Linked DNA regions of Homo sapiens: region 2 is linked to region 1. The links come from fine-mapping of genetic effects on gene expression. A gene starts in region 1. The other region holds a variant in brackets. All regions are shown on one strand. Distances are between the middles of the regions.

Evidence for each region. PIP is the estimated chance that this variant, and not a neighbour inherited with it, causes the effect.
Region 2: its variant is fine-mapped to the expression of FGG in lung (TOPMed, PIP above 0.99).

Annotation. Positions count from the first base shown.
Region 1 is chr4:154,611,120-154,614,157 of GRCh38, reverse strand. FGG (fibrinogen gamma chain) reads left to right here and starts at 1,502. Exons shown (of 9, transcript NM_021870.3): 1 at 1,502-1,626; 2 at 1,723-1,767; 3 at 1,957-2,140; 4 at 2,260-2,353. The coding sequence starts at 1,549. RefSeq lists an enhancer at 288-1,460.
Region 2 is chr4:154,589,508-154,592,007 of GRCh38, reverse strand. It overlaps FGA (fibrinogen alpha chain), which reads left to right and starts at 1,266. Exons shown (of 5, transcript NM_021871.4): 1 at 1,266-1,374; 2 at 2,446-2,500. The coding sequence starts at 1,321. The variant C/G (reference allele first, on the strand shown) is at 1,193.

The DNA of each region.
Region 1 (3,038 bases):
CTTCTTCACAGAGGCAACTGATTCAAGTCATTACATAGTTATTGAGTGTTAACTACAACTATGTTAAGTACAGCTATATATGTTAGATGCCGTAGCCACAGAAATCAGTTTACAATCTAATGCAGTGGATACAGCATGTATACATATAATATAAGGTTGCTACAAATGCTATCTGAGGTAGAGCTGTTTGAAAGAATACTAATACTTAAATGTTTAATTCAACTGACTTGATTGACAACTGATTAGCTGAGTGGAAAAGATGGATGAGAAAGATTGTGAGACTTAATTGGCTGGTGGTATGGTGATATGATTGACAATAACTGCTAAGTCAGAGAGGGATATATTAAGGAGGAGAAGAAAAGCAACAAATCTGGTTTTGATGTGTTCACTTTGTTATAATTATTGATTATTTACTGAATATGAATATTTATCTTTGTTTTTGAGTCAATAAATATACCTTTGTAAAGACAGAATTAAAGTATTAGTATTTCTTTCAAACTGGAGGCATTTCTCCCACTAACATATTTCATCAAAACTTATAATAAGCTTGGTTCCAGAGGAAGAAATGAGGGATAACCAAAAATAGAGACATTAATAATAGTGTAACGCCCAGTGATAAATCTCAATAGGCAGTGATGACAGACATGTTTTCCCAAACACAAGGATGCTGTAAGGGCCAAACAGAAATGATGGCCCCTCCCCAGCACCTCATTTTGCCCCTTCCTTCAGCTATGCCTCTACTCTCCTTAGATACAAGGGAGGTGGATTTTTCTCTTCTCTGAGATAGCTTGATGGAACCACAGGAACAATGAAGTGGGCTCCTGGCTCTTTTCTCTGTGGCAGATGGGGTGCCATGCCCACCTTCAGACAAAGGGAAGATTGAGCTCAAAAGCTCCCTGAGAAGTGAGAGCCTATGAACATGGTTGACACAGAGGGACAGGAATGTATTTCCAGGGTCATTCATTCCTGGGAATAGTGAACTGGGACATGGGGGAAGTCAGTCTCCTCCTGCCACAGCCACAGATTAAAAATAATAATGTTAACTGATCCCTAGGCTAAAATAATAGTGTTAACTGATCCCTAAGCTAAGAAAGTTCTTTTGGTAATTCAGGTGATGGCAGCAGGACCCATCTTAAGGATAGACTAGGTTTGCTTAGTTCGAGGTCATATCTGTTTGCTCTCAGCCATGTACTGGAAGAAGTTGCATCACACAGCCTCCAGGACTGCCCTCCTCCTCACAGCAATGGATAATGCTTCACTAGCCTTTGCAGATAATTTTGGATCAGAGAAAAAACCTTGAGCTGGGCCAAAAAGGAGGAGCTTCAACCTGTGTGCAAAATCTGGGAACCTGACAGTATAGGTTGGGGGCCAGGATGAGGAAAAAGGAACGGGAAAGACCTGCCCACCCTTCTGGTAAGGAGGCCCCGTGATCAGCTCCAGCCATTTGCAGTCCTGGCTATCCCAGGAGCTTACATAAAGGGACAATTGGAGCCTGAGAGGTGACAGTGCTGACACTACAAGGCTCGGAGCTCCGGGCACTCAGACATCATGAGTTGGTCCTTGCACCCCCGGAATTTAATTCTCTACTTCTATGCTCTTTTATTTCTCTCTTCAACATGTGTAGCAGTAAGTGTGCTCTTCACAAAACGTTGTTTAAAATGGAAAGCTGGAAAATAAAACAGATAATAAACTAGTGAAATTTCTGTATTTTTTCTCTTTTAGTATGTTGCTACCAGAGACAACTGCTGCATCTTAGATGAAAGATTCGTAAGTAGTTTTTATGTTTCTCCCTTTGTGTGTGAACTGGAGAGGGGCAGAGGAATAGAAATAATTCCCTCATAAATATCATCTGGCACTTGTAACTTTTTAAAAACATAGTCTAGGTTTTACCTATTTTTCTTAATAGATTTTAAGAGTAGCATCTGTCTACATTTTTAATCACTGTTATATTTTCAGGGTAGTTATTGTCCAACTACCTGTGGCATTGCAGATTTCCTGTCTACTTATCAAACCAAAGTAGACAAGGATCTACAGTCTTTGGAAGACATCTTACATCAAGTTGAAAACAAAACATCAGAAGTCAAACAGCTGATAAAAGCAATCCAACTCACTTATAATCCTGATGAATCATCAAAACCAAGTGAGAAAATAAAGACTACTGACCAAAAAATAATAATAATAATCTGTGAAGTTCTTTTGCTGTTGTTTTAGTTGTTCTATTTGCTTAAGGATTTTTATGTCTCTGATCCTATATTACAGATATGATAGACGCTGCTACTTTGAAGTCCAGGAAAATGTTAGAAGAAATTATGAAATATGAAGCATCGATTTTAACACATGACTCAAGTATTCGGTAAGGATTTTTGTTTTAATTTGCTCTGCAAGACTGATTTAGTTTTTATTTAATATTCTATACTTGAGTGAAAGTAATTTTTAATGTGTTTTCCCCATTTATAATATCCCAGTGACATTATGCCTGATTATGTTGAGCATAGTAGAGATAGAAGTTTTTAGTGCAATATAAATTATACTGGGTTATAATTGCTTATTAATAATCACATTGAAGAAAGATGTTCTAGATGTCTTCAAATGCTAGTTTGACCATATTTATCAAAAATTTTTTCCCCATCCCCCATTTATCTTACAACATAAAATCAATCTCATAGGAATTTGGGTGTTGAAAATAAAATCCTCTTTATAAAAATGCTGACAAATTGGTGGTTAAAAAAATTAGCAAGCAGAGGCATAGTAAGGATTTTGGCTCCTAAAGTAAATTATATTGAATGTGGAGCAGGAAGAAACATGTCTTGAGAGACTAAGTGTGGCAAATATTGCAAAGCTCATATTGATCATTGCAGAATGAACCTGCATAGTCTCTTCCCTTCATTTGGAAGTGAATGTCTCTGTTAAAGCTTCTCAGGGACTCATAAACTTTCTGAACATAAGGTCTCAGATACAGTTTTAATATTTTTCCCCAATTTTTTTTTCTGAATTTTTCTCAAAGCAGCTTGAGAAATTGAGATAAATAGTAGCTAGGG
Region 2 (2,500 bases), 22 kb after region 1:
AAGAAAGATCATACAGTATTTGTCTTTCTTTTCCGTTTTTTTTTTTTTTTTTGAGAAGGAGTCTCACTCTGTGGCCCAGGCTGGAGTGCAATGATGCAATCTCGGCTCACTGCAACCTCCTCCACCTCCCGCGTTCAAGTGATTCTCCCTGCCTCAGCCTCCTGAGTAGCTGGGATTACAGGTGCCTGTCACCACGACCAGCTAAGCAGTATTTGTCTGTCTATATCTGCTCATTTCACTTAGGATAATGCCCTCTAGGTTCATCAATGTTACTGCAAATGACAGAATTTCCTTCTTTTTCAAGGCTGAGTAATACTCCATTGTGTATATATATATATACACATTTTCTTTATCTACTCATCCATCAGTGGAAACAGGTTGTTTTCATATCTCGGCTATTGTCAATATAGCTACAATGAACATGGGAATGCAGGTGTCTCTTCAAGATCCTGATTTCATTTCCTTTGGAAATACACTCAGAAATGAGATTGCTAGCACAGAAACAGGAAATAAATGGTATTTTTCATGGCACTTTATGATCTCCCATAATTCACTGAGTATTTCCTATGTGACAGTCACTGTTCTGAGAGATTTACAAGAATTAACTCATTTATTCTTCATAAAAGCATGGGGTAGCTTATCAGCATCCTTATTTTATAAATGAGGAAACTGAAGTATAAAGAGGTAAAGTAACTTGTCCAAGAACATAGAGCAGGGAAGTGGTGCAGCTTGGATTATGAACCCAAGATGTTTTGTTCCTGGGGCTGCTGTCATCTTAATATTTTAAATAGAGAAAAGTAATATGTTCTAAATAAACTTATAGAAAGCCTTCAGGGCCAGCTTATCCCCAAAGTTATTTTTTTTATAAGCCAGATCACCCAACCCTAATTTCTGCATAAAGTGAAATATTGTTTGCTAAATCACTACTACTGGGGGCTACAGCTAGCTTACCTAAGCACCTTCTATATTCTTTCACGTTTAGAAATATGGATATACCCTCCTATGCTCCTCTTTTCATTCTCAAAGCCACCCTGTTCCTGGAATGTGAGATCTCCTAATTGTTGACTGGAGAATCAAATGCTACCTTTGCAACAGCTTATCGGAAGCAAACAAGCTGAGGGGAATTGAGCAAGAATTTCTGGGATACCAACAGCATAGGAGGAACAAAGGACGTAGAGGGAGGGTTGACTGT[C/G]TACACAGGACAAAGCCAATGATTAACCAAACCTCTTGCAGATTTAAATAGGATGGGAACTAGGAGTGGCAGCAATCCTTTCTTTCAGCTGGAGTGCTCCTCAGGAGCCAGCCCCACCCTTAGAAAAGATGTTTTCCATGAGGATCGTCTGCCTGGTCCTAAGTGTGGTGGGCACAGCATGGGTATGGCCCTTTTCATTTTTTCTTCTTGCTTTCTCTCTGGTGTTTATTCCACAAAGAGCCTGGAGGTCAGAGTCTACCTGCTCTATGTCCTGACACACTCTTAGCTTTATGACCCCAGGCCTGGGAGGAAATTTCCTGGGTGGGCTTGACACCTCAAGAATACAGGGTAATATGACACCAAGAGGAAGATCTTAGATGGATGAGAGTGTACAAACTCACAAGGGAAACTTTAGCATCTGTCATTCAGTCTTACCACATTTTGTTTTGTTTTGTTTTAAAAAGGGCAAGAATTATTTGCCATCCTTGTACCTATAAAGCCTTGGTGCATTATAATGCTAGTTAATGGAATAAAACATTTTATGGTAAGATTTGTTTTCTTTAGTTATTAATTTCTTGCTACTTGTCCATAATAAGCAGAACTTTTAGTGTTAGTACAGTTTTGCTGAAAGGTTATTGTTGTGTTTGTCAAGACAGAAGAAAAAGCAAACGAATTATCTTTGGAAATATCTTTGCAGTATCAGAAGAGATTAGTTAGTAAGGCAATACGCTTTTCCGCAGTAATGGTATTCTTTTAAATTATGAATCCATCTCTAAAGGTTACATAGAAACTTGAAGGAGAGAGGAACATTCAGTTAAGATAGTCTAGGTTTTTCTACTGAAGCAGCAATTACAGGAGAAAGAGCTCTACAGTAGTTTTCAACTTTCTGTCTGCAGTCATTAGTAAAAATGAAAAGGTAAAATTTAACTGATTTTATAGATTCAAATAATTTTCCTTTTAGGATGGATTCTTTAAAACTCCTAATATTTATCAAATGCTTATTTAAGTGTCACACACAGTTAAGAAATTTGTACACCTTGTCTCCTTTAATTCTCATAACAACTCCATAAAATGGGTCCTAGGATTTCCATTTGAAGATAAGAAACCTGAAGCTTGCCGAAGCCCTGTGTCTGCTCTCCTTAATCTCTGTGAGAGTGCCATCTCTTCCTGGGGACTTGTAGGCATGCCACTGTCTCCTCTTCTGGCTAACATTGCTGTTGCTCTCTTTTGTGTATGTGAATGAATCTTTAAAGACTGCAGATAGTGGTGAAGGTGACTTTCTAGCTGAAGGAGGAGGCGTGCGTGGCC